4 linked regions of the Homo sapiens genome follow. The protein of the gene in region 2 purifies or fractionates together with the protein of the main gene of each other region. This does not show direct contact. Each region holds a gene or a part of one and is shown on either strand. Other genes may lie near its edges. The genes, in order: NOL10, RBM19, ZCRB1 and NOL12.

The links.
Region 1: the proteins of RBM19 (region 2) and NOL10 purify together in Homo sapiens (affinity purification with mass spectrometry; 2 studies listed by BioGRID and IntAct, with this or other methods). This does not show direct contact.
Region 3: the proteins of RBM19 (region 2) and ZCRB1 purify together in Homo sapiens (affinity purification with mass spectrometry; 2 studies listed by BioGRID and IntAct, with this or other methods). This does not show direct contact.
Region 4: the proteins of RBM19 (region 2) and NOL12 purify together in Homo sapiens (affinity purification with mass spectrometry; 3 studies listed by BioGRID and IntAct, with this or other methods). This does not show direct contact.

The regions. Positions count from the first base shown.
Region 1 is NC_000002.12:10,588,966-10,595,987, forward strand, and holds part of NOL10 (nucleolar protein 10), read right to left. Parts: intron 787-7,022; coding exon 613-786; intron 326-612; coding exon 78-325; intron 1-77.
Region 2 is NC_000012.12:113,935,322-113,942,343, forward strand, and holds part of RBM19 (probable RNA-binding protein 19), read right to left. Parts: coding exon 7,003-7,022; intron 4,840-7,002; coding exon 4,639-4,839; intron 1,816-4,638; coding exon 1,686-1,815; intron 1-1,685. UniProt on the Homo sapiens protein: Plays a role in embryo pre-implantation development.
Region 3 is NC_000012.12:42,323,095-42,330,777, reverse strand, and holds the start of ZCRB1 (zinc finger CCHC-type and RNA-binding motif-containing protein 1), read left to right. Parts: upstream 1-4,683; 5' UTR 4,684-4,854; intron 4,855-6,673; 5' UTR 6,674-6,675; coding exon 6,676-6,759; intron 6,760-6,918; exon of another isoform or gene 6,919-7,078; intron 7,079-7,683.
Region 4 is NC_000022.11:37,681,776-37,689,355, reverse strand, and holds the start of NOL12 (nucleolar protein 12), read right to left. Parts: upstream 3,014-7,580; 5' UTR 2,964-3,013; coding exon 2,881-2,963; intron 1,447-2,880; coding exon 1,341-1,446; intron 1,045-1,340; coding exon 996-1,044; intron 507-995; coding exon 364-506; intron 1-363. UniProt on the Homo sapiens protein: Multifunctional RNA binding protein that plays a role in RNA metabolism and DNA maintenance. Participates in the resolution of DNA stress and the maintenance of genome integrity by localizing to sites of DNA insults.

The sequences.
Region 1 (7,022 bases), on a different chromosome or scaffold from region 2:
CTTTAGGGCAATGTGCCAGAGAGGAAAAGCAAGGGCTTGGTTACATGTCAACTGTGCGCTCAGGCAGTGCTACTCACTTCATCAGTTTCTGCTTTGTGGCAGAATCTTTGAAGCTTCTAAATTCTTCTCCTGCTTTGATCTCATAAAACTGGGGCTTTAGGACTGTCTGCTGGTCCTCCTTGAGTCGTTCCTGCCGCTTCACTTTTTCCTCCTGCTGGAGGAGTCTGCGTTGCTTCCTGACCTCTTCAACCCAGGCTTTTTCATCATCTGAACTCTCCGAACTTTCTGCATCACTTGGTTTTCCTTCCGGCTCTTCCTCCTCTTCCTGAGAATAAAAATAGTAAGCAGCAACTCCTTTCCCCCAGTCAAACACAGACCCCTTGGTTTCTCTGAAGCAGCACTGGCCCATTAATGAGTGCCTAACAGCTGCTCTACTGCATGCATCAGGAGAAATGCCTTTAAATAAATAAGATAATACTCCTAAGCCCAATGTCAAACACTTAATATGGAATTAATTACATCTCAAGTATAATCAAAGACTCTTCTAACTTACAAAGAAAACATTACATTAAAGAAACAGTAGCAAATTCTAACTGATAAGGAGTACATTACTTTTTCACGAAGTTCTTGTTGCTCTAAGAGTCTTAGTTTCTTCTTCCTTTTTTCACTAATTTTTGAAACAAGTGGATTCAGAAGCCTAAATTCTTCACTCTCTTCATCTACTTGGAAGTCAGGGTTCTCAAACATAACTTTAAATCGATCATCGGTGAGAATATTAGGAAGACTCTACAAGGAGGAAAAAGTACGTAAAAATTTAAGTTAATATCTGACTAAAATTTGACCAGAAACATGGTTTTAAAACACTGATTCTATTATAAGTTAATAAGCGGCATGAGGCATACATTATTAACTCATTATGAAATTTCTTCCAGGACTTTCAACGTGCCCCTAGGTTTTAGCTGCCACCACCAAAACAACCTCTATTAATCTACTTTGCAGATGCTCTACACCACTTGGCCATTACACACAATGAGCCAAGAATGACCCTTTTGGCTAACTTTATGCTTAACAGATTAGAAAGAATTTCTTCAATTAACATTTTAATGCAAAAAAACACCTTTCAAGAAGATACTAGGTTTTTAAAAAGTGGCTTTTATTATTTTTTAGAGATACGGTCTCACTCCAGGCTGGAGTGCAGTGGCACAATCACAGCTCACTGCAGCCCCAACCTCCTGGGCTCAAGTGATCCTCCCACCTCAGTCAGGCTCCCAAGTAGCTGGGACCACAGGTGCACCACCGCACCCGGCTAATTTTTTATTTTTTGTAGAGATGGGTCTCACTATGTTGCCCAGGATGGTCTTGAATTCTTGGGCTCAAGCAATTTCTCGTGCCTTGGCCTCCCATAGTACTGGGATTACAGGCATGAGCCACTGAAAACAGGGCTTTTAAATAAAGCTTAGTTACTACACTGACTTAAAATAAGCAATTCTTTCAACTTCAGATTCCAAAACTGGGAGAGGAGGTATACAAAGTCAGTAACTCACATGGTGGGATGCAGGAAGCTGGTGATGTCAGTTTACCGATTCCAGCTGAGTTACTGGGAAACAGAAGGGACGTTTCCATCCCCTACAGGGTTGTTTCATCAATATTCCCCCTCAGGTCAACTAATTGTTGTCAAAGGATATTGTGTATCCTTCAGATACAAAAACTTTGGCTACTGAGACCCATTTAGATAGCTCAGGACTGATACTAAATTCCTTTTTATTTGTACCATTTTCAATGGAAAGTTTTCTAAACTGTACTGTAAACTTACCTGTTCACTTAAGTAGATGACAGAGAATCTTACACATTTAGGACTGTCTTATTGTTCCTTCTCTGCTACAGGCTTGGAAGCCAGATGAAACGGCTTACTCAGAATTGTTTGTCAATCAGAGTAAACAGCCCTGAACACTGCTGGAAAAAGCTGACCTGTTTGTGATGGACTCTGACTCTGCTGAACAGACTACTTTACTATTTCTCCACTGTTGAGAGTAAACAAGATTGCAGGCAGTTGAGTTCTGAATATTATTTGTGTGACAGACCTATACAAAAGTTTAGTAAATCATAAGATATTAAGGAACTTGGCCTGTTTATTATTTGTATGTACCTAAAAACAGATAAACCCTTACCTAAAATTCTAAGATATTAAATGCAGCAAGTTTCCCTGATTAAACATCATTTCCAAGAAAGACTTACAACGAAGGGAAAAAGAAAGGTAAGATCGAGTTCCTGATCCTAAACTAGTAAGGAAGAAAAAACACTGCAAACACGTGCTACTAGGCCTCTTCTGAGGGCTGCTCGGTAGTGCTGAAAGTGCCACAGGAGAGGACAGAAAAAGGAATCCCAACAAAAGACACCCCAGGAGGGGCCCTGGGGGGTGCAGCATCAGGGAGGGGGCTTGAAAGATGAGTAGGTTTCAACAAGTAGAAATCTGAAGAAACAGCATTTCCAGCCGATGGGAGTGGTGAATAGTCTGGCGACATAAGAATGATGCAATTTCAAAACAATTTTTTGATTGGGTCATACTGTAAAGGATTTTAAATACCATGACTGTTATTTTGAAGATATAAGGGGAAACCACTAGCGAAGAGGAGGAGGGGGAGGAAGAAGAGGAAGAGAAAAAGGAAGAGAAACGAAGGAGGGAGACAGGGAAGGAGGGAGGAAGGAGAAGATGGATGATCAACAGAAGTGTGCTTCAAGACTCCCAGATGACAGAACTGGCCAGGTGGTGGTTCATGCCTGCAATCTCAGCACTTTGGGAGGCTGAGGTGGGAGGACTGCTTGAGGCCAGAAGTTCAAGACCAGCCTGGGCAACATGGTGAGACGCTGTCTATACAAAATATAAAAAATTAGTCAGGCGTGGTGGTGCATGCCTGTAGTCCCAGCTACTTGGAAGGCTGAGGTAGGAGGATCGCTTGAGCCTGGGAAGTCAGGGCTGCAGTGAGTTGAGATCACACCATGTACTCCAGCCTGCGTAACAGAGAGACCTTGTCACAAACAAACAAACAAACAAACAAACAAACCAACCCAAAATTGTGCTTCAAAAGTCTGCAGCAGCCTGATGTCTGACGGACTGCTGAGTAAGAAGTTAGCATCATGAGAAGACTAAGAAGCCATTTTAAGAAACTGGCAAGAGAGACAGGGCCTGAATTAGGGCAATGGGAACAGACAGTTTTTAAGAAAGAATAATTACGAGATACAGTTCTAAATTAGAATTGACAGATCCAGCTATGGAGATGGGAGGGTTAAGAATTAAAAACAGGGTTAGAAACTTCTCTCAAACATGTAGCTTAAGCAACCAGAAAGCTGGCGACACTGAGTTAGAATCCATCACTGGAGAGCATTAGGAAAAAACGCAGGGGTGGAGTAAAGGGGAAGAAATCACGCTCCATTTAGGGCTGCCTATGCCTGTGGCACAGGGAGAAGAGCACCAGGATTCAGACGGACACCACTAGGTGTCTGGGAACGATGCGCCATGTCTCAGGAGAAGGGAGGGGGCTATGATGTAAATTTTGGAGTTATCTGTAGATATCGGATAGATGATAGTGTGAAAGATAATTTCAAATGAATAACTATGTGCCTATTACACATTTTCAGGTTAAAAAAACCCAAGGGCAAATATTTACTTTTCATCTTACTATATTTATTAAAGTAATAATCATATTTAATAAATAGAGAAAATGTTACAAAGACTACATATGTTGCTGGTATTAAGATTTTTTTCTTAATTTAAAACAAATCAATTGCATTGCCTAAAGACAAGTATGCTTTGGATGAACAACTATAAAATAAAACCTCTTCTGACCCAGCTTGTAAAAATATTTCCCTCAGGGTTTTTTCCTAGTCTGTTTGTTTTCACAGCTGTCTTAAGGAAAAAAGTAGGATAAGGTATAGCTATTAATGTTCTATAGGAGCTTACAAGTGTCTGGCTAGTGATCCGTCCTATAAATACCCGTCTACACATGCTCAACTTTACCATTAAAATATAGAAAACATTAAAGTACTATTCATACCACAGTCCTACCTGGAAGAATGGTATCTGTCTACCTGAGTGGGACGCCTATTATTATTTTGTTCCAACATAGTAACATATATGAAGAATGATTGCCATTTGAAACAAATTAGTTTTTTTTTTTTTCTTTTTTTTCTTTTGAGATGGGGTCTTGCTCTGTCACGCAGGCTGGAGTGCAGTGGTGTGATCTCGGCTCACTGCAACCTCTGCCTCCCGGGTTCAAGCGATTCTCCTGCCTCAGCCTCCTGGAGTAGCTGGGATTACAGGCACGCGCCACCACGGCCGGCTAATTTTTGTGTTTTTAGTAGAGACGGGGTTTCACCAGTTGGTCAGGCTGGTCTCAAACTTCTGACCTGGTGATTCGCCTGCCTCGGCCTTCCAAAGTGCTGGGATTACAGGCGTGAGCCACTGCACCCCGGCCAATCAAATTAGTTCTTTCAATGCTATGATACCTATGAAGTTAGGCTGGTACAGACTTCTGAGTAAAGATGGTGGCTTGAACACTAGTATCTTCTAATCTCTCCTAAAACTTCACTAGAACAACAGAAAAGGAGCTTTATAAAAAGGGCATAAACCCTTAAGAAAAAAAGGAAAGGAAATAGGGGTAATAAAAATTTGGAAGCCAGAAAGAAAGCCTATTTAAAAATCACACCCCAGCTCTGGAAAGCCTGGCCCCAGCCCTTTCCCACGGAGAAGTTGCTTGGCTGAGGCTGGCACTGCAAGAGCAAGAGAGGTGTGCTGGCCACAAGGAGGGGAGGGCAAGGCTGGCACATGGGGGTGAGGTGCCCTCTGGACCCCTCCAACCTCTTGTGACCTACAGTGGTCAGTTCTAGGAATGCTGGTAGCCAGGCCTTTACCCCCCCAAGCAGGAGGACCTGACCAGCCAAGAGAAAGACCTAAGAGACAATGACATGTGCAGTGTCCTTCCCCAAACAGTGTGGCCAAGTCACTGCACACTGACTGAGGGACCCTGTCCCCACCTAGAGTTTTCATTCAGTTTTTTAACTCTCTTATTCCTCACTGCCAAAAAATAACTATGGATCATGGCAGGAAAAACTAATTGAAATTTTCTTTCAAGAAAATTCCCCAGCACTGAAGACCGAACTTCTAGACTGAGATGGGCTTGCAGCACAGTACAGTCGCTTCGTGTCAGGTTTCCCAGGACGCTTCCTCTTCCTGGGCTTACACTGTTATTTTAGAGAAACAACTCCCCTAGCAACTTCCCGAGGAAAAGCAGCATTTAAGGGGAATTGGTTGTTGTTGAGAACTTGCATGTCTGAAAATATCTACCATACCCTCACATTGACTGACTGCTTGCCTAGGTTGGAAACTATATTCCTTCAGGAAACTGAAGGTTCTTGTAATTCTCTGTCCAACATGGGCTGAGGTGAAGTGAATCCCCAGGATAATGGTAAAGGGAGGTCCCGGGATTAGAAGGTGACCAGGCTAGAATGGAATGGGGCAGAAAATTCTAGAAGCAACTTCTTCAGGAAGGTAAATAAGCATAAGTCTAACCTATCTAAACACCTCAAAATAAGACTTAGAGAACTGACATAGAATTGGGTGTTGATTAGTGATAACTACATAGAAAACGAGCAAGAGAGACAATTATTAACTTCAAAGTACACAAAGATTGAACAAGAAATGCAGTCACAGATTACTACTGACTCGGCTGGAAATAGCACTTACGTAGGCCAGGCATGGTGGCTCGTGCCTGTAATCCCAACACTTTGGGAGGCTGAGGTGGGAGGATCTCTTGAGCTCAGGAGTTGGAGACCAGCCCGGACAACACAGTGAGACCTCAGCTCTACTAAAATATATACATACATATATATTAGCTGGGTGTGGTGTGCACCTGTAATCCCAGCTACTTGAGAGGCTGAGGTGAGAGGATCACTTAAGCCCGAGAGACTGAGGCTGCAGTAAGCTATGATTCTGCCACTGTACTCCAGCCTGGGTAACAGGCTCTATCTCAAAAAACAAAAGTACAACAATGTAATGCTGAATACCAACTTAATCAAAATCACAATATAGCTTCCTTGGAAAGGAAAGTTATCAAAAGATAATGCCTAACACTAAAAAGTTAAGAGGTAGGACTACAGGCAAGAGGGAGGGAGGGGGAGGGGGCAGAGAGAGAGAGAGAGAGAGAGAGAGAGAGAGAGATTTATACCAAAATAATCAGCAAAAAAGGCAAAAGTGGTTGTCTGAGAAGAGGTGAAAATGGAGGAAGGCAGAGGGAGGAAAAGGGGCAGACAATGGGATGGCCTACATTCCTAACAAACCTTGGAGAAATGTTTAGGTTTTTTTTGTTTTTGTTTTTGACAGAGTCTCACTCTGTTACTGGGCTGGAGTGCAGTGGCACAACCATGGCTAACTGCGGCCTTGCAGGGAGATCCTCCCACCTCAGCCTCCTGAGTAGCTGGGACCACAGGCATGCACCACTACACCCAGCTAATGTTTTGTAGAGATGCGGTTTCACCATGTTGCCCAGGCTGGTCTTGAACTCCTGGGCTCAAGTGATCCTCCCTGCCTTGGCCTCCCAAAATGATGGGATTACAGAAATGTTTTTTTGTTTTGTTTTGTTTTTGTTTGTTTGTTTGTTTTTTGAGATGGAGTCTTGCTCTGTTGCCCAGGCTAGAGTGCAATGGCGTGATCTTGGCTCACTGCAACCTCTGCCTCCCAGGTTCAAGCAATTCTCCTGCCTCAGCCTCCCAAGTAGCTGGGATTACAGGTACGCACCACCACACCCAACTAGTTTTTCTATTTTTAGTAGAAATGGGGTTTCACTGTGTTGGCCAGAGTGGTCTCAAACTCCTGGCCTCAAGTGATCTGCCTGCCTTGGCCTCCCGAAGTGCTGGGATTACAGGTGTGAGCCCATAATGTTTGTGTTAGGCACTGTGCCCAGACTGAAATGTTTAGTTTTTAAAACTATGCATGTATAACTGTAATTTAAAAAAAACAAAAATTTTAA
Region 2 (7,022 bases):
TACTTAGGTTCAAGGGTGGTAACTGAAGTAAAAATCAAGGCAGCTGTGATTTGGGGGAGACAGTTAAGAACAAGCCAGGATGACATGAAGAGAATTTTGTTTTGATGGGAACAGGCACAGGTTTTGAAGGAGACCCTGATCCAAACTGAGTGGAGAGAGCTTAACTCATAAACGAGCAGGAGTCGGGCTTTCACAAGGTTTACACCAATCATCATTAACCCCAACGATGTGGGATGCTTCTGGGTCCTCAGATCGCAAAGGGACTGAAGGATTTTGTTTCCTGATTGAAACAGGCCTCCAGACAGGCACTTCCTGAATGCCTTGCGCTGGCTGAGCCAGTCCTGAAGATACACAGTGAAACAAGGAAATGAGAAATGTGGACAAGGCAGGGGAGGTTAGGTACAGCAAAGTCTATTCCACTAAAATCTTAGACTGGGCGTGGTGGCTTATGCCTGTAATCCCAGCACTTTGGGAGGCTGAGGCAGGCAGATCACTTGAGGCCAGGAATTCCAGACCAGCCTGGCCAATATGGTGAAACCCCGTCTCTACCAAAAATACAAAAAAATTAGCCAGGCGTGGTGGTGGGCGCCTGTAGTCCCAGCTACTCGGGAGGCTGAGGCAGGAGAATTGCTTCAACCCAGGAGGCAGAGGTTGCAGTGAGCCAAGATCGCGCACTCCAGCCTGGGCAACAGAGCAAGGCTCTGTCTCAAAAAAACAAAACAAAACAAAACAAAAAAAACAACTCTTAAATCTGACAGTGTTCCTCCCCATTTTTTTTTAACTATGAAATGTCCTTTAAAAAAAAATGAGAACAAAGGAGAGAGTAGCTGAGGACTTATTATTATTTTTTTTAACATCCTTATTTTAATAAGTTAAACAACTGGTTGCTGTATTGTGGGTGTGTATAGGTGAGTGGTTATTACTGACAAGGAAAATCGTAACATCTGGATAGAATGACCATGGTCCTGTTGGTCTTGGCTTCTAAGATGTGGTCATGGTCCTTAGACTATGAGGTCCTCGATGCGGGGGATACACTGCCCGCTGTGGGCATCTAGGAATGCGTGGGGGTGTTCCAGGTTGTCACAAGGACTGGGGGCACTCGTGACACTCAGAGGCACAGGCCAGGGATGTGAAATGTCTTGTGATTTGCAAAGCAGTCCTGACAAGAAAGTACTGTCCAGTCCCAAAGCCCAATGATACCCCTTTTCCCAGCTAGGAAGCATTAGCCAGGGGGTGGGGGTTGCCCTATCTGGCCCCCAGGGGCCACGGCTTCCCCTTCCTTTCCTGTCTTTGCAGTCACTGGACATCAGAGGGCACTGCCACTCCAAGGACATGAGAATAAGTATCTCCCATACCAGCCACCCTCCTCCATGAGCCATTCTGGTCCATCTCTGAAACAGGAAGGTTGTTTATACTTGCTCTGCTTTGAATCCTTGTTAATAGATAGTAATTTTTTTCCCCTAAAAGCTTTAATTGACAAACTAAAAGCATATTGCATCCATAATTTTGACACTGTTTTTTACAGGACATGCCCATAAAATCTGAGAGTCTGAGCCCTGCTGGTCTCTAGCATGAACAAAGAGCTTTAAACCAGAGGCTTGATAAGAAACTTCACGCTGCCCCCAACCCTCCTCCTTTCCCTCACCAGGATCCCAAGCCATCCTGGTCTCAGACTCAGCTCTTACCTGTTTCTGGCTCTGCTGGGTCCTTTTCCATGGGTTCTGAAGGTGTGTCTTGGAGCTTTTTCTTCTGTGGGGCTGTGCTGGAGAAGACGCCAACTGGAGCCCACTCCAGATAGAGGGGGACATGATGGAACTGCAGAGACAAGAGTGATGGCCCTGTGGGTCTTCATTACAACACACTGCTGGGGAGGGACTCAGTCCCATGCAGATCACAGCCCAAGGGTCACAGAGGATGGGCAACTCACCCAAGAATGGAGCCGGAAGGAGCCCAGCCCAGAGCCCTGACTGCTGTCTACTCCCTGAGGACAACATTCGGCCCCCATGCTGCATCTCAGGGTGCAGGAGAGAGGCTTTAGTCTCTGTTGCCACCAGACATATGGCAGCTCCCAGGCCCCCTTTGTGTTTTTTCCAATCAGAGTATGAAACTCTAAAGTTTCATACTTTAGATGGGAGTGGGACGAGGAGCGACCACATCACTGGTAAAGTGCAGCTCTCCAGGAGGAAGTGTAAAATACCCGTTAAGAGAACACACTTTCTCTCTATGTGCATATATCCACGGGCAACACCTGTATACGTGTGCATATGTGTGCATGCAGATGTTATTTTTTTAAAAGGATAGCTGGGCATGGTGGCACACACCTGTAGTCCTAGCTACTCAGGAAGCTGAGGTGGGAGGATCCCTTGAGCTCAGGAGTTTGAGGCTGCAGTGAGCTAGGATTCTGCCACTGCACTCCAGGGAAATCCTGCCTCTTAAAAAAAAAAAAAAAAAAAAAAAGAGGGGCCCTGGGCAGGCGGGTGATAAACAAGACACTGATGACACCTGCCTCATTAGGCGGTTACTGGGGAGCTGCAGGACAGGGGTGGGAGTGAGACTTGTCAACAAATGCCCTTTTTGAATCTTTTCAAATTTCCTACTCCATGAAAGCCTTGCAAATCAGTTATTTTCAGAGAAATACACATGCTTCAGAGTGAAACAGATTGGTGTGCAGACAGCAGGCTGCATCACTACTTAGCTGTGTGATCGTGGGTCAGGGCACCTCTCTGGGCATCAGTTTCCATATGTGCAAAATGAAGACAGCAGTCTTCTTGTCGGTGAAACAGACACTGCCCAAAACAGGAGGCCTCACCTAGTCAGTGTTCTCCAACTGTGGCTCACACAGAGAGAGCTTTTGGTGACTGGCATGTCCTCCCAAAGCAGAAGGAAGAAAGGATGGTGTCACATTCCAAAGGATGCTCACATCTCAGTCATGGGGCCCCACCTAGATAATTTTTCTTATGGGTCAGGCGCAGACTGACTTCCTGAGAGCTTAGTGGCCACAGAGTCCCAAGCTAAAGACTATTACGGGGTTAAAGTGGCAGAGAATGAGAAATCATTTCCTCACCAGCAAAATGGGGACATGAATATCTATCTCTAAGAATTGCTGGGGGGCATATGAATACCTATCTCTAAGAATTGCTGGGGGGGACATGAATATCTATCTCTAAGAATTGCTGAGGGAGACCAAGGTCTGCGAAGTGCTAAAGTGTCTTATAAACAGAAAATACTTGTAGTGGCACCGCAAGGGTATGTCTATATCTTGAACCCCTAGAAACCTGTGAACGCGCCCTTATTTGGAAAAAGGATCTTTGCAAATTTCATTAAGTGAAAGATTTTGAGATGAGATCATCTTGCATTATCCCGGCAGAGCCTAAATCCAATGACAAGTGTCCTTATAAGAGAAACAGGGAGGAAGACTGAGAGAAGAGGAAAAGCCAAGTGAGGATGAAGGGAGAAACTGGAGTGATGCAGCCATGGGCCAGGGATGCCTGGAGCCACCAGAAGCTGGAAGAGACACAGATCAGACTCCCTAGAGCCTTCAGAGGAAGCACAACCCTGCTGACACCTTGATTTCAGACTGTGGCCTTCGGAACCGTGGGATGATCTATTTCTGTTGTTTCAAGCCAACTAGCTTGTAATAATTTGTTATGACAGCCACAGCCAGCAAACTAATACACAACTGTTGGCTTTTTTCTAAACCAAGAACCAGGAGACAGCCCCACCTACAGAACTGACTTTCATTCATCTCATTGTAGCTACAGGATTACAAAAGCATCAAGAATGCTCATTCTTGGGCAAAATAGGGAGACCTTTGTCTCTACAAAAAATCAAAAAATTAGCCAGGCGTGGTGGTGCATGCCTGTAGTCTCAGCTACATGGGAGGCTGAGGTGGGAGGATTGCTTGAGCCCCAGAGTTCAAGGCTGCAGCGAACCAAGATGGCGCCACTGCACTGTAGCCTGGGTGGCAGAGCGAGACCCTGTCTTTCAAAATAAATAAATACTTTTTCAAAAAAATAATGAACACATTTAATTAAAATTAAAATGCTAATCCAAATTAACATGGGTAAAGAAAGCCAAAGAAAAGCTAGAGTCAGGCAAGGAACCAAGGCATGCTTTCTGGAGGATGGTTCAGAACTCCCTTCTCCCGGCCCGGCGCAGTGGCTCACGCCTGTAATCCCAGCACTTTGGGAGGCTGAGGCGGGCGGATCACGAGGTCAGGAGATCGAGACCATCCTGGTGAACACGGTGAAACCCCGTCTCTACCAAAAATATAAAAAAATTAGCCAGGCGGGGTGGCGGGTGCCTGTAGTCCCAGCTACTTGGGAGGCTGAGGCAGGAGAATGGCGTGAACCCGGGAGGCGGAGCTTGCAGTGAGCAGAGATCGCGCCACTGCACTCCAGCCTGGGTGACAGAGCAAGACTCTGTCTCAAAAAAAAAAAAGAACTTCCGTCTCCCATTCTTCCCATCCAGACAGGTTTTCAGGCGGCAGGGATGATATTCAGCCATGATCGTGACGGGCGGTTTAGGGTGAGCTCCCATGTGCCACATCTGTGAATCCATAGCCCACTGCACCCTCTCCCTTGAAGCAGCCCTCACTGGTCCTTCTCCAGATCAATTCTGGGTCTCCAGCAGCCCTACCTTGGAATAGGCCAGATGCCTGAAGGCCTTGCGGGCCTCCAGGGGCTCCAGGAACTCCACGATGGCAGTGATTCCGCCCTCTGGCAGCAGCACGCGGCCCAGGCTGCCAAAATGGCCGAAGGTCTCCTGCAGCTGGGCCGCCAGGGTGCCTGCCGGGAGGTTCTTGACCAGAATCACAGTCTTGCTTCGCTCTGCTGCAGCCTGCAAAGAGGAAATGCACACACATGGGACCACAGGAGGGAGGAGGGTCCCCAGCTGACACCAGCAGGGATCGTGGGGCTCTCCAGACAAGGCTCTCCATTTGGAACCTCAGCAACCAGGCACTTAGGAGGAAGACCCAGGAGGAACGACCCTCTCTGGCATGATGCTCCCTGCAAGGCTGCAAGGCAGCTCTGCAGAGGGGGTAAGGCCTGGGACTCTGAAGCTGGAGCTTCTGGATCAAATCCCAGCCCCTCCTCCACTCCTGAGCAGGGCCGCACTTTCCAAGGCTTCCAGTGGCTGGGGTCTGCATCTCAGTACCAAGGCTTTTTTTCCTGAACTACAGACCGCCCACCTGCTACCACGTGCAGCCAGCAGGACGTGCTGCAGAGCTAACGCCCCCTGGGAGCAGCCCACAGCTCTCAGGAGTTGCTGCACTCCTTGTCCTTGGGTGGGATGAGACTGAGGTATGAGTGCTGCAGGCTTTCCCCTAGGCAGAGCTCCAGGCAGCCACAGGGCAGCGTACTGCAGCAGCACACTCTGCACCCTGGGCTCCTTCCCTTCCCTGCATCCCTTTCTCACCAGAGTTTTCTGCACTGCCCCCAAAACTGTTTGCCCTTGAATCCTTGTCTCAGAATCTGCTTCTGGGAGAACCAAAACTAAAAGACTAAGCTATTCAGCCTTGAGAAATGTACTTAACTGTGCCTCAGCTCCCGCAGCGACAGCAAGGACAGAGCATTTATTTCACAGGATCGCTCCAGGAAAAGTTTTCATTAAATGGGTTAGTAAAAGTACATGTAATATGAGCACTCTGAAAACGTTAGCAATAATTTTATTAAAAAATAATGTTGGAGGAGGATAAAAGAGCCAATAAAATATAATGGAAAAATCTAGGCATATGGCCTATCTGGGAATAAGTCTTAGCTCAGCCGCTAATGTAACCTGAGACCTTGGGTCAATTACCTTGTTTCTGTGGGCCTCAATTTTTCTCATCTGCAAAATGGGCTAACAGTCACACCCATCTTATAGAGGCCACACAAGGTTACTATGAGGATTGAGTGAGGTGAGGGGAGTGAAAACCATCTGCAGGTGGGAAAGGCTGGGCACCTGTGGGCCTTTTAGGTGCAACTCAGGCCGCAGTGTTACAGTTAGAGAGACAGACTCTGGGGCCAGAAGGCCTGTGTTCAAACTCAGCTCCACCATGACTAGCTGTGAAGTGACTTCACCCCTCTGTGACTGTGGTTCCTTCTGTAGGGTGGAAGCACAGTAGAGCTGCTTTCACAGAGTGGCCATGTGAATGAAATGAGCTAATTAAACATGTAAACTTAGAAGAGTGCTTTGGTAAGTCTTAATAAATGTTAGCTATTAGTATATTTATTTTATCCATCTATCTACCCATCCATCCATGCATCATCTGTATTCATCCACCATCCATCCATCCATCCATCCATCCAACCATCAAGCCATCCATTCATCCACCATCCATATTCATCCTCCATCCATCCATCCATCCATCCATCCACCCATCCCCCATACATCTTCATTCATCCATCCTCCTCATCCATCTTGAGGTAAAAATGTGAGGCCTGGGAAGGCTGTTGAAAGGGCTGTTTTGGGAGTCAGAAGCCCTGAGTTTTAGTCCAGGCTCCTCTCACATATAGACTGTTTGACCTTGTAAGTCACCTCCCCACTCTGAGCGTTGGTATCCCAGATTGTAAAATGAAGGGGTCTCATGATGTCTTAGGGGCCCTCTAAGCTGCAGTCATCCATAAATCTAAGACCTGCTACTTGCTGGAGAACAGGCACATGGAGGTGCTGGACTCTTCCCTGCTAGGTTCAAGAAGGGTCAAAGTCCCCGAACAGATAACAGATGCTCTGGGAAGCCACTGGGTAGGGGAGTGAGATGTTGGGGGTGCCGATCTGTGTGGGGGAACTGTGGGGTTGTAGGCAGACCTCTTGTACATGGCTCTGGACAGACAGAATCAGGGTCAGATAGGCCACTTGTCTCAGCCCATGTAACATTTCTTCTTTTCTTTAGAGACAATTTAGAAATCAGTAATAGTCCTTAGAAGGCCAGATCCTTAAATCCATCTGCATCTCCCCTGGAAAGGCCATTCTCGACTCTCCAGTGGCTGCTGGCTGGCTGGCGCCACCGAGAACACCCACCTGGCTGAAGGAATCCAGGC
Region 3 (7,683 bases), about 72 Mb from region 2:
AGATTGCACCACTGCACTCCAGCCTGGGTGACAGAGCGAGACTCCATCTCAAAAACAAAAACAAACAAACAAAAAAAGATCTGTACCCTGAACAATTGTTTTGCCTTGAGATGCTGTTAATCTGTAACTTTAGCCCCAACCCTGTGCTCACAGAAACATGTGTTGTATGGTATCAAGGTTTAAGGGATCTAGGGCTGTGCAGGATGTGCCTTGTTAACAACATGTTTACAGGCAGTTTGCTTGGTAAAAGTCATCACCATTCTCCATTCTCGATTAACCAGGGGCACAATGCCCTGCGGAAAGCTGCAGGGACCTCTACCCAGGAAAGCCGGGTATTGTCCAAGGTTTCTCCCCAATGAGACAGCCTGAGATATGGCCTCGTGGGACGAGAAAGACCTGACCGTCCCCCAGCCCGACACCCATGAAGGGTCTGTGCTGAGGAGGATCAGTAAAAGAGGAAGGCCTCTTGCGGTTGAGGTAAGAGGAAGGCCTCTGCCTCCTGCATGCCCCTGGAAACGGAATGTCTCGGTATAAAACCCGATTGTACATTTGTTCTATTCTGAGATAGGAGAAAACCACCCTGTGGCTGGAGGCGAGATATGCTGGTGGCAATGCTGCTCTGTTATTCTTTACTACACTGAGATGCTTGGGTGGAGAGAAGCATAAATCTGGCCTATGTGCACATCCAGGCATAGTACCTTCCCTTGAACTTATTTGTGACACAGATTCCTTTGCTCACGTTTTCTTGCTGACCTTCTCCCCACTATCACCCTGTTCTCCTGCCGCATTCCCCTTGCTGAGACAGTGCAAATAGTAAACAATAAATACTGAGGGAACTCACAGACTGGTGCCGGTGCAGGTCCTCCATATGCTAAGTGTTGGTCTCCTGGGCCCACTGTTCTTTCTCTATACTTTGTCTCTGTGTCTTATTTCTTTTCTCAGTCTCTCGTCCCACCTGACGAGAAACACCCACAGGTGTGGAGGGGCAGGCCACCCTTCATCCAGGTATCTGTGGAATTAACTTTCCTGCCCTTCAATGTCACCTTCTTAATGTCACTTATAACAGATCCCCCAATCGTGCTATCTTTAATTAGCACTAATAATCTAAGATACCACATAATGTACTTTTAATACACATTAGTCCCTCACTAGTAATATTTCTACTAGTAGTATTTCTAGTAGTGAGGGTTTAATCTGTATTAAAAGTACACTATATAGTATCTTAGATTATTAATGCTAATAATAATAAAAAGCAGGAATGTCTATTTGTTCACTGATGAATATTAAGCTCCTAGAACAATTTGCACACTGTGCTCAGTATTCAGAGTGAATTAATATTCTAATGTTTCTATTAGAAAATATTTGAAATTCCAGGCCGGGCGCGGTGGCTCACGCTTGTAATCCCAGCACTTTGGGAGGCCGAGGGGGGCGGATCACGAAGTCAGGAGATCGAGACCATACTGGCTAACACGGTGAAACCCCATCTCTACTAAAAATACAAAAACAAAATTAGCCGGGGGCGGTGGTGGGCGCCTGTAGTCCCAGCTACTCGGAAGGCTGAGGCAGGAGAATGGCATGAACCCGGGAGGGGGAGCTTGCAGTGAGCCAAGATCGCGCCACTGCACTCCAGCCTGGGTGACAGAGTGAGACTCCGTCACACACACACACAAAAAAAAAAAAAAATTGAAATTCCAGACAACTAAACATAAATTTTAGAACATAATTAGTTAAGGTCATTGAAAAAAAAAAATTAACTGATGCTGGGGCTGGGTGCGGTGGCTCATGCCCGTAATCCCACCATTTTGGGAGGCTGAGCCTGGCGGATCATTTGAGGTTGAGAGTTCAAGATCAGTCTGGCCAACATAGTAATACCCCGTCTCCACTTAAAAAATATACAAAAATTAACCAGGCATGGTGGGACATGCCTGTAATTCCAGCTACTCAGGAAGTTGAGGCAGGAGAATCCCTTGAACCTGGGAGATGGAGGTTGCAGTGAGCCATGATCGTGCCACTGCACTCCAGCCTGGGCAACAGAGCAAGACACCGTCTCAAAAAATAAAAAAATAAAAAGTACTGCATTCTCTACTAGTTTCACAAGTCACTTGACTTTCCAACGCTTTAAGGATACTTCTTTTATAAGCCCGAATGTACTGCACTAAACTTAGTAGGAGATCCCTGATTGTCCATTATAATTGATCAATTAACTGAAATTACACAAGTAAACAAAAATGCCAGATGTCTGCCTACATATAATATTTATAAATCTGAATTTTATTTCATATATGGATGGAAGTTAAGGCCTTAACCGGTCAGCCTCCTTCCAGTGTTTTACCCTCCATTTTACCCTAAAAAAGGATAATCAACTGTTAACGCATATTCATAATGTGAAGTTTCCAGGATCAAGAATCCAAGAGGTTTTTTATTAACCATAATAAATCCAAACTTCTATCTTCCATATGCCTCCTTCTATTATATCTAACCTTCTATTCTCTCCAAAAGCATATAATTATGCCTGTTTCCTTACTGTGCCACAAACAGACTAACACATACTACCACGGAGCTGTTTATTTTCCAAACGGGATATCTTTTTCCATTCTCTCATTCAACATCCAACGGTCCATCAAGGCCCAACTCAAAACCTATTATTCTCCACAAAGCCCATTATATAAACCCTACAAGACTTAAAACAGATTCCAAACTAGTGACTGATAGGCCATATGAGACTTGTGTTTGACCCACTTTTTTTTTTTTAATAAAATTCTATTCCACTGACAACATTTAAAAACTGGGAGAGGATGCTTTTTAAAAAATGGTATTTCCAACTTTTTTTGAAAAAATTAGATGTTCTGGCAAAACTGGGATCATATTCTCACATAGCCACAATCAGCTGTAGCTGAGTGGCAGGTGACCCCTTCTAAGGGTGAAGTATTCATTAACGTTAACTGCCTGATCTCTGCAGCATACCTTCAGCACCTGCAATCATTCAAGAAATAACTGACTGTCTTATGTGCCAAGAACTGTATTAGCTACTGGAGTTACAAAGATAAACGAGACAAACACAGTCCCTCACCGACAGTCTCGCTTAGTAGGGATGGCAAAGAAGCAATTAAGATACATGTGATAAATGCCGTGAGGGAAGTGCAGGACAGCTAAGAGTACATAGCAAAAATACCTAACTCTATGGAAGTTAGGGTATACCCCTCAAGTAAAGTGACAGCTAAACTCAGATCTTTAATAGAAGTTATCCAGAAAAAGATAGGAGGAAACAGGGAGCTCAAATGTCCCAGAGAGAGAAAAGAGCCTTTGTGAAGATACTGAGGGAAGAAAGTATTCTGAGGAATTGAAATCCGTTCAACATGGCTACAGCCATGCCCAACCTTTAAATGCAGGGTCAGAGAAAGGGCTCAACTGAAATGGCTGGCAGGAAAATCTACGTGTTATCAATAGTTAAGGTTAGGAGATGAAGGAGAATTTCACTAAAGAAGTTGAATATGTAAAATAGTTTAAGCAGGAAATAGAGGTTTCAGAAAGCACAGATGGGGTGTTGAGGGGTTAAATGGGGAAGAAACGAAGAAGCAGTGATAGCCTAAGTCGAAAGAAAGCACAAAGCAGCATGGAAATGAGACTATAGCACAGAAGACCACAGAAGCTTACATCTTGGGCGGTAACCAAGGATAACAGAGATGTAAAGCATGGTAAGTTTGGCTGGCCACAAGTATGCCTAGAGAATTAGTGCCAGCGGTCTCCTGTCGGCCACGGAGGCATTCAGGCCTCTCAAAATTCAGCTGCGCCCTGGATGGATTGTACTTCCGTCTCTATAGAAGACATCGGCTTCACTCTGGATTGATTGTGCAGGCTCCAGGAGAGGCTGTGGGTTCCAGGCTGCTGGAACGCAGGCTCCCAGGGAGTGGTTAGAGGCCTGGTCTGTATGTGCTGGTAGGCAGAAGTATAAATTACCTTGCATTACGTTCTGATTTTTCTGTAGGAATGGTGGGCATGTTATGGCCTCTTAGAGAAAAAGCAGTGCGTAGCCATTATAGATTTACAGGAAGAGAAAAGGTGCCAAGAAGATCAACACTTGTCCATACCCATACTAAAGATGAGTCATTCTGTGAATCCAACTCTCCCCAAGTTGACCTCGTCTCCCCAACTAGACTGAGATCTTCACCAGAAAACAAAACAAAACAAAACATAAAAGGTCTGTTTATTTTGTAGTTCCCAAAGTGCCTAATAGCTGGGTACCGTGAACACCTTCAGTAAAATTACCGACTTCCTGACTCCTCTCGGGTCACTGAAGTTACCTAGCTCAGTCGTCTTCTTGCATATTAAGGCGCTACAGAGAGGCGAACCCCTATCTTAGACTCAATACTTCCCTTTATTCCAAACTCCACTGCGTCTCTCCACCCTCAACCGCATGGGCAGAATTGTCACACAATTCAAAGGCAGGAGAATCCAGGACCCGACACAGAAAACTCCCGCCCACTCCCCCCCGTTTAGCAGCCCGCACACGCTCTGCATCCATCTCTGGGAAAGGTAAAAAGCGCTCACCGACTCTGGCCCTCCGGGAGACCCCGTAAATGCAGCCGTCCGCTCGCCGCCGTTATCCCAGGTAGGTACTTCCGGCGCGCGCAATGACGTTAGCGAAGCGCTCGCCTCTGGGCCCGCCTTCGGGGCCCGGATCTCAAACAGTCGGGAAGAAGCACCGTGGCTGCTATTATCTGCTCTCCGCGCCTGACCCCTCCCAGGACTCGTGATGCCAAGGCCGCTGCGAGCGGCTACGAAGAGTCGGGGTTGAGCCCCAGCTGAGCCGAGGGCTCGCACTCTTCTGGTCTCCCAGGCCCAACCCACCTGAAGGTAAACGCCTCCTCAGCTGCGGCCTTCTCTCCTGCGGGGCCCCCTCCCCAGACTCGGCTGCCAAAACGCTCTGCCCCTCTCTCCCGCCACCCTTTTTATTCCAGGACCTTAACCTCTGCCTGCCTTCGCGGCTCTCAGCAGAACGTGTAACGCATAGTTTCAAATGAGAAACTTAAAAAGCGACGTATCTATGTTGAGTTCCTGAAGTTTTCTAAATAATTCCCCCATAACACCAAACATGAGGCAGTTTTCTCATTCCTTCACGAATTGGCATGCCATAGAGTCAGTATTTTTCCATTTGTGATGGTTGATCTTCCCATCTCAAATACACACCGCACGCTCTTTTTAAATCAGAAATTTGAATTTGGTTGAGCCTGATATTTTCACGGTAATTTGCTGACTTTGTAAGATAAGATGTGAAAATTACTGATTACATTTGTAAACTTTATATACATATACACACATACCTACAGGTCTGTCTCTTCGAGGCACCAAGCCTATTTATATAATGTATCATTTCATAATTTGGCAATAAGCAAAATTAGCGTTTCGAAAGAAGTTTATATTGTCGATACATAAAGCTTAAATTTACTCCTTAACATCATACTAAAAGGGGAAAAGAAAATTTTCCTCTTAACACACCACTCCAGAGAAAAAAAATATTAAGACAAGCAAAAAAGGTACCCAGCCATAGTACAGGCATGCACAGCATAACAACTTTTTGATTAACAACAAACCACATATACCACAGTGGTCTCCTAAGAGTGTAATACATTGTACCATATTTTTAGTGTACGTTTTCTGTGTTTAGCTATGTAAATATTTACCATTGTGTTTCAACTGTCTACATTATTCACTACATTAACATGCTGTACAGGTTGTAGCCTAGGAGCAATAGGCTAGACCATCTAGGTTTGTCTCAGTACACCCTGTGATGTCTGCACTGTGAAATCACGTAACACTCAGAACATACCTCCTTCATTAAGCATAGCATGACTGTGTATTAGCAAAAATCAGTGGCTAAGGTTCTGTCTGAGTCCCCATGCTCTTTCTGACCTGGGTGAGCAAGGTGCAGGTAATGTACATATACAGTACATATTCAATAGAGCATTTTTTTTGCTCATGGTCTGAGTGGAAGTTAGGAGTAGCCTCAGGGTTTTTCCTTCATCTGTTCAAAACCCGTCTCCCTACCCATACAATCTGGCACTGAAAGTGTTGGTATAAAGAATACTTGAAAGAAGAAGAACCAAAAAAGAATTTTTTTTAAGTGGTGACTGGGAAAAAGGAATTCCTTAATTCAGCCTGCTGGAGTCATTGTTCCTAACTTCCTAAAATGTAAGGAAGGTGTACACATCTGGCATAATTAAATCGGTGATTGTTAATACTTTATTGGTTTTTGTTTTTTGTTTTTTTCCAAATAATACCCAGACTGGTCTGATGTATTGGTTTTATTTGGAATTAATAATACTTGGTTTAGGCCAGGTGTGGTGATTCATGCCTGTAATCCCAGCACTTTGGGAGGCTGAGGCAGGTGGATCATTTGAGGTCAGGAGTTCAAGACCAGCCTGACCAACATGGTGAAACACTGTCTCTACTAAAAATACAAAATTAGCCAGGCATGGTAGTGGATGCCTATAATCCCAGCTACTCGGGAGGCTGAGGCAGGATAATTGCTTGAACCTGGGAAGCAGAGGTTGCAGTGAGCCGAGATCACGCCATTGCACCCCAGCCTGGGCAACAAGAGGGAAACTCCGTCTCAAACAACAAAAAAAGAATCCTGGTTTAGACTGATTGCTGATAAGTTTGTTTTCACTTTTAGAAATGAGTGGTGGATTGGCTCCAAGTAAGAGCACAGTGTATGTATCCAACTTGCCTTTTTCCCTGACAAACAATGACTTGTACCGGGTAAGTAAATCTTATCGAGTGACTGCTATTTGAGATACAGATAACCTTAAGCAAATAGTTCTCCCTGGCAAATTCTTTTTTCCTTTTTTTTTTTTTCTTTTTTTGAGACAGTCTAATTCTGTCACTGAGGCACGAGGCTGTAGTGCAGTGGCACTATCATGGCTCACTGCAGCCTCCCCGCCCCCTCAGGTGATCCTCCCACCTCATCCTCCCAAGTAGCTGGGAATACAGGTGTGTGCCACCATGCCTCTACAAGCTACCTGGGAGACTGAGGTTGGAAGATTGCTTGAGCCTAGGAGGTCGAGGCGACAGTGAGCCAAGGTCACACCACTGCACTCCAGCCTGGGTGACAGAATGAGACCCTGTCTCAAAAAAAAAAAAGAAAAAAAAATAGAAGCTATATTTATTGAACATTTAAGTCAAATTATGTGTTAGATACTAAGGAGATGCTAAGATGTTAGGTGCTAAGGAGAAAAAATAACGCAGGAAAGGTGGGCTATTGAACGTTAAGTTGGGAATGGAAGTGAAATTTTACATAGGGCGGTCAGAAATGCCATTATTGAGAAGGTGACTTTTGAATAAAGACCTGAAACGAGTAAGAGGCACCTGTGCAAATTCTAGAGGACAAACATTTCAGAAAAAGAGGGGTAATCTTAGGTAAGCCCACTCGAGGTGCCTTATACGACCTATTTACATCATGGTAAGGACTCTGGCTTTCACTCTGCATGAAACAAGAAGCCATTAGTAAGTATTATATAGAAGACTGTACTGGCCTTCAGAACCCAGTGTTGCTAACACTGCTATCCAGTTATTTTACATTCCAGCATTATACAGCTTAATCATAGAACGAAAAAATTCGTTATTATTGGTTGCATATACTAACACATTCTAAAAGACTTTTTATATAATAGGAACTCTTAGTAT
Region 4 (7,580 bases), on a different chromosome or scaffold from region 2:
TTCACCCTCATACCAATCCCACAAGGCAGGTGCCACCATCAGCAACCCCCAGTTCACTGATGGAGAAAGGGAAGCAGGCAAGGTGAAGGAGCCTGCCCAAGCTCCTCAGCCGCTCAGCAGTGGGGCTGGTCTTTGCAGCACCCCGGAAGCAGGGAATGAAGGGTCCAAAGGGAAGGAGCCCCAGCAGTGGGGTACCCACAACATGGGCCAGCACTGAGCAACCCCGACAAGCCAGTCTGCCCCCACGCCCCTTCTTCCCAGGGCTGGCAGTGGGATACCCATGACATGGGCCAGCACTGAGCAACCCTGACAAGCTGGTCTGCCCCCACGCCCCTTCCTCCCAGGGCTGAGACTGGGACCCACCTCAGGTGGGGTCAGCCCGAGCAGCCGGGCCCCCGAGAGGTCCAGGTCACTGATGGTGGTCACGGTGACTGTGTGGTTGGGGTGGTCATACTGCACCGACTCCGTCTTTGCTGTCACCAACCGGTCCAGCTCATCTGCCTCCTCTGTGGGGGTGGACACAGACCTGGTCTCAGTCACGGGAACGAGTGACCAGGCTCCAGCCTCCCTCCCGCCCTGGAGTGCAGTGCCCCCTCTACTCTGTGGACGTGGAGCGCATCCACAAGGTCACTGGCTGTAGAGCCTGGTCTGTGGATGAATGTTGTGAATGATCCCGTTTCCTTCATGCTCTAGCTGGTCCCCATGTCAGACAAACCCTCTGTGACAGCTACTGCTGTCCCTCCCCTCCACCCCTAGTCCTTTCCATCCTTAAAAACTGGGCTCTCTTCTCAGGCTTGGTTAACCATGGGGTTTGGGACTCCTTCTCCTGGTCTCTGTTCCACTTGCACTTAGAGGTGCTTAGGACCACCCCTGGCCCCAGGGTACCCCCCAAGATCCCTAGGGCCAAGGAGGTCAGCTTCTATCCCTTCCACCCACCAAGGGTATAAACCAGGCCCATCAGCTGTTCTCCAGGTCAGGCCAAGCATGCCACTTACCCAGAGCCTCTTCTCTCTCTGCCAGCATCTTCAAGTATTCCTGGTGGCGCTGAAACCACACAGGCAGGGAACACAGTGAGTATGGCCTCTCAGTCCAACCTCAGGCTGGGGTATTAATCACCCCCAGGGTGAGGGAGACCATGATCCATACTGCAAGATCAGGAGGAGACTCCATCTTCCATCACTCCCAGACCCGGGCCCACAGAGTCTCCACCTGTATAAACTATTCCCCAGTCCTGCCCACACACACATCGCCCCATGCCAGCAGCTGCCTCTATTAGGGAAATCCAAGGCTGCAAGTGCCCTAAGAATCAAAGACCTCCCTCCCACCTTCCCCCTGCGTACCTCCTCCCGAAGCTTCCTCTGCTCCTCTTTCAGCCGCTGCTTAATCTCCTCAATGGCTGCCTTCTTTCGCTCGACCTTCCGCTTGTGGAAGCCTGTCAGGTACTCCCTACAGGAAGGAAGCCGGCAGAGACAGGAGAGTCATTATACAAGGAGAGAAGGGCTCGCTCTAGGAGAAAAATGGCTAATGCCGCGCTCACTATGTGCTAGGCACCATTCCAAAAAAGTGTAAGTATTAGCTCATTTAACCTTCACAACAATGGCCAGGCATGGTGGCTCACGCCTGTAATCCCAGTACTTTGGAAGGTCGAGGTGGGAAGATCACATGACGCCAGGAGTTCAAGACCAGCCTGGCAAACATGGTGAAACTCCGTGTCTACTAAAAACACAAAAATTAGCTGGGCTTGGTGGCGCATGCCTGCAGTCCCAGCTACTTGGGAGGCTGAGCGGGGAGAATTGCTTGAACCTGGGAGGCGGAGGTTGCAGTGAGCCGAGATCATGCCACTGCACTCCAGCCTGGACGACACAGACTCCATCTCAAAAACAAACAAAAAACCCTCACAATAACCTGTGCGGTGGGTATCAATCTCCATTTTACAGATGGGAACGTTGAGTCACAGAGTCTAGGTTACTTGCCCAAGGTTAGAGAAAGGATACATTTAGGAAAATAAGGGAGATACTGCCTCTTTCCACTCAATACTCTCCAGGGATCTCAGGTTCAGGCAACAGGGCCAGGCTGTGGGGCGGGTGGGGGGGGGGGCCACACACAGTACATGAGGTAACCCCTTCCACACCTACAAACCTCATTACTCTCTCAACAGGGTTTTCAGGGCCACCACCATCCAGACCTTCGGAAACCCTGCACTGGACCAACACCCATGTCCCCAGGACACCTGACCCTAAACTCGCCTGTAGGGCCTGTTGATGCACGCTAGGAGTTTCCTGATGATGCCCAGCATTTCCCTACCTCCTTCCCTCGGTCTAATCTCAGCCCCTTCTCATCTCCACAGTGCTAGCTGCTCTGTTCCCATTTTGTCCCACGGTCCAGCACTGGGCTTTTCGCTGACCCGCTACCATGTGCCATTTATTTATCTGGCCAGACGCTGAGGCTCAGAGGTTCTGCTTCCTGATACGGGACCTGGCACACCAAAGGAGCCCAATAAATGTCTAGGGAGCGAATGAATGAACTTAAGCCACTCTCATTTCATTGGCTCATCATTTATCAACCACGGCTGGGCGCCTGCTGTGTGCCGGACCGATGGACTGGGCTGGGCTAGGGTGGTCGAAGCCACTGCTCTGAGACCCGAGCTTCCGGCTATCTGGCGGCGCACAGACACTAGGCGAGGTGGGGAGGTCAAGAAGGGAGAAGGTGGCGGCCGAGAAGGGAGAAGCGGGAACGCGGGCTGGAAGGCCGAGAGGGGTTCTCTAGCCACGCCAGGGGGCGGGACCGGAAGAGCCCCCGGCGGGAGCGTGCTCGGCCCCAGACCTGGCCTTGGCCGCGAAGAACAGCTCGAGGGGAGTCCGGTCCGGCTTTGCCACTCACCGCCTCTTCTCCTCGTCGAAGCTAAGAACGAGCCTCGGCCGCCGGTCGTCACCATCTCGCTTCTTCTTCTTGTTGCGGCCCATAGCAGTGAGGCCGCCGGCTTCCTCTCCCTGAAGACACTTCCGGGTGTAGCGTACTCATCCTCCCGGGCGCACACTTTAGCGTCGCACCGAAGTTCCGTCCACCAGGCCCAGCCTTTTAAAGGGACCTCCCAGCTCCTTTTCTTCCCTCTTCCCATGCATGACGCGCTGGTCCCTGATCTCTCCGTGACTCCCAGCTCCAGCCCCTCCCCAGCCTCGCTTCAATGAGAGCGAGGTCCCCTGGACCCCACTGCCTAGGACTGTGCCTGGCACACACTCAATATGGAGTTACTCGTGAATGGCCCAAATTTCCTGTACTAACCCTACTTTGGATATTTTTTTCCTTTAATTTATTATTATTGCTTTTGAGATGGAGTCTCGCTCTGTCGTCCAGGCTGGAGTTCAGTGGCGGATGTCGGTTCATTGCAATCCCTGCCTCCCAGGTTCAAGCAATTCTCCGCCTCAGCCTCCTGAGTAACTGGGATTACAGGTGTGCGCCACCATACTCCCTAATTTTTGCATTTTTAGTAGAGACAAGTTTTCACCATGTTGACCAGACTGCTTGAACTCCTGACCGCAAGTGGTCCTCCCATCTCGGCCTCCCAAAGTGCCGGGATTACAGGCGTGAGCCACCGTGCTGGCCCCTACTTTAGATGCTGATGTCAACTCGTTGGTAGTCTCCAAGAGGGAGCCAAACTGCCTGGATTTGTATACTGGCATCACACCTACAGCTGTGTGGTCCCAGACCAATGGTCTTCGCGGTGCCTCACCCTATTTGTAAAATAAGGGAAAGTATAGTAGCTTCGTAGGGTTGTTGTAGACACTGGTTCTGGAACTTTGGCATACATCAGAATCCCCTAGAGGGCTAAAAACCTGGATCGCTGGGCCCCACCCCGGAGTTTCTGATCCGATAGAGGTTTCTGAGTGGATTTCCGTTTCTAGCAGGTTCTCAGGTGATGCTAATGCTGCTGGTCCGTGGACTAAACCTTGACAGCTGTGATTGTGAGGAAGTTAATTATGTAAAGTTTGTCTAACATAAGGCACGCATACATGTGTTTTCTGCACAAGCCATCTTCCCTCTTTGTGCCTCACTTTGCCCAAAGGTGGAATGAGTGTATAATAACATCCTTGACTGAGAATGAGGGCATGGTTGTGAAAGATTGCAGTGAAACAACGCCTGAAGGGGATTTTTAGTCACTTGGATTGTATGCCAGAATCCTTCATCCGCTTTTTTTTTTTTTTTTTCTGAGACAGAGTTTCGCTCTTGTCACCCAGGCTGGAGTGCAGTGTTGTGATCTCGGCTCACTGCAGTCTCCGCCTCCCAGGTTCAAGCAATTCTCCTGCCTCAGCCTCCTGAGTAGCTAGGATTACTGGCACCTGCCAGCACGCCCAGCTGATCTTTGTACCCTGACTCTGAGTTTTGGAAGGAGGCAGGCAGTAAGTGCAGCACTCCAGAATGCTGAATTCATTCCATACAGCTCCTCTGCTTGGGAAATCTATGTGGGATCCTGAGAGGAAGTTACCTTTTTTTTTTTGAGACGGAGTTTCACTCTTGTTGCCCAGGCTGGAGTGCAATGGCACGATCTCGGCTCACTGCAACCTCCGCCTCCCAGGTTCAAGCGATTCTCCTTCCTTAGCCTCCCTAGTAGCTGGGATTATAGGCATGTGCCACCATGCCCGGCTAATTTTGTATTTTTAGTAGAGATGGGGTTTCTCCGTGTTGGTCAGGCTGGTCTCAAACTCCTGACCTCAGGTGATCCACCCACCTCGGCCTCCCAAAGTGCTGGGATTACAGGCGTGAGCCACCGCGCCCAGCTGGAAGTTACCCTTAAACTACAGGCCTGGCCTTTCAGTTCTGTGGCCCAGAGCAATGCAGGGGGCTCCCTTAGGGTGCTGGACTGCACCTCTGACCAGCTGCTTCTGCCCCTTAGTGGCAGTGCCTTAAAGCCACCCTTGGCACCTTCCTGGGTAGAGGCATCACCCTGGCTGAAGGTGCCCAGAGAGTCACCTTCTGCAGCTGGTCTGTCTCCTCCCAGTCCCAGGCTTCGACCTGCTTGGTTTGCCAGGGCTCCACTCCCACCCAGAGTGGTTGGAGATGAAAAGTGAAGGCTCAAGCCGGGCGCGGTGACTCACACCTGTAATCCCAGCACTTTGGAAGGCTGAGGCGGGAGGATCACGAGGTCAAGAGATCGAGACCATCCTGGCCAACATGGTGAAACCCCATGTCTACTAAAAATACAAAAATTAGCTGGGCATGGTGGCACACGCCTGTAGTCCCAGCTACTTGGGAGGCTGAGGCAGAAGAATCACTTGAACCCGGGAGGGTTGCAGTGAGCCGAGATTGCGCTGCTGCACCCCAGCCTGGCGACAGACAGTAGAGCAACATAGTAAGACCCTGTCTCTACAAAAAATTAAAAATTAGCCAGGCGTGGTGACATACTCCTATAGTCCAGCGACTTGGGAGGCTGAGGTGGGAGGATCACTCAAGCTCAGAAGTTTGAGGCTGCACTGCAGCTGTGATCATGCCACTGCATTCCACCCTGGGTGACAGAGTGAGACCCCATCTCTGAAAAAAAAAAAGAAAAAAAAAAAAAACAGGCCAGGCGCAGTGGCTCATGCCTGTAATCCTAGCATTTTGGGAGGCCAAGGTGGGTGGATCAATTGAGGTTCGGAGTTCCAGACCAGCCTGACCAACATGATGAAACCCCATCTCTATTAAAAATATGACAATTAGCCGGGCGTGGTGGTGCATGCCTGTAATCCCAGCTACTCGAGAGGCTGAGCTACTCGAGTAATCACTTGAACCCAGGAGACAGAGGTTGCAGTGAGCCGAGATCCCGCCACTTCACTCTAGCCTGGTCAAAAGAGCAAAACTCTGTCTCAAAACAAAAAACAAAAACAATAAGAAAAGAAGTGATGATAAACTTAATGAGGAAAAAGAGTAACAAGAGCAGCTGACATTTATTTAGCTCTTTACTCTCTTTAGATTATTGATTTTATTATTTATTTATTTATTTATTTATAGAGATGAGGGTCTCACTATGTTGCCCAAGCTGGTCTCAAACTCCTGGGCTCAAGCGATCCTCCCCATTCAGCTTCAGGAGTAGCTGGAACCACAGGTGCCCACCACTGTGCCTGGCTTATGATGATCTCTTTTGAGGTACAATCCACATTTTACTGAGGAGGAAACTGAGGCTCAGAGAGGTGCAGTCACTTGTCTGAGGTCACACAGGCAAAAACAGGTGCTGAGGGTGGGGCGCAGGTGGCCTAAGGACAGAGATTGACTTAACTTATCTGGACCTAGTTTCCTAGGCCCTTGGGACACACCAAGCCTTAAAAGGGGTGAAGGGAACCAACACTCACCGAGCCCCTATTGCGTGCCAGGCACCATGCATTTCTATACATCACCTCAGCTAATCTTTTTTTTTTTTTTTTTTTTTTGAGACGGAGTCTTGCTGTGTCGCCCAGGCTGGAATGCAGTGGCATGATCTCGGTTCACTGCAACCTCCTCTTCCCGGGATCAAGTGATTTTCCTGCCTCAGCCTCCCCAGTAGCTGGGACTACAGGCATGCACCACCATGCCCGGCTAATTTTTGTATTTTTAGTAAAGACGGGGTTTCACTTGTTGGCCAGGCTGGTCTCAAACTCCTGACCTCAAATGAATCTCCTGCCTCAGCCTCCCAAAGTGCTGGGATTACGGGTGTGACCCACCACACCCAGCCAATACTAGTGCAGTCTTTTTTTTTTTTTGAGATGGAGTCTCGCTCTGTCACCCAGGCTGGAGTGCAATGGCGCAATATCGGCTCACTGCAACCTCTGCCTTCCGGGCTCAGGCGATTCTCCTGCCTTAGCCTCTTGAGTAGCTGGGATTACAGGCACGCGCCACTGCGCCCGGCTAATTTTTTTTTTTTTTTTTTTTTTGAGACGGAGTCTCGCTCTGTCGCCCAGGCTGGAGTGCAGTGGCGGGATCTCGGCTCACTGCAAGCTCCGCCTCCCGGGTTCACGCCATTCTCCTGCCTCAGCCTACCAAGTAGCTGGGATTACAGGCATGCACCACCATGCCCGGCTAATTTTTTATATTTTTAGTAGAGACGGGGTTTCTCCATGTTGGTCAGGCTGGTCTCGAACTCCCGACCTCAGGTGATCCACCCGCCTCGGCCTCCCAAAGTGCTGGGATTTACAGACGTGAGCCACCATGCCCGGCCTAATTTTTGTATTTTTAGTAGAGACGGGGTTTCGCCATGTTGCCCGGGCTGGTCTCGAACTCCTGACCTTAGGTCATCCACCCACCTCGGCCTCCCAAAGTGCTGGGATTACAGGCGTGGGCCAGCGTGCCTGGCCAACTAGTGCAGTCTTAACAAAGTTTGCCAGATGAGGAAACTGAGGTTCAGAGACGTTGAATAACTGGTCCAAGGGCACACAGCCACAGAGCTGGGGTTTAAACACAGGTCTGTCTGACGCTGAGCCGGGCTTCCTTCCTCCACACCCAGTGGCCTCTCTTACCTGCCCCAGGACTTTCCTCTGCCCGGTTGTGGCCCCAGTCCTAGTGTCCTGTGAGTGTCAGCCAGTGTAGGGGAGAATCAATGTGGGTGAACTGAGGACAAGGCAGGGCAGCCTGGG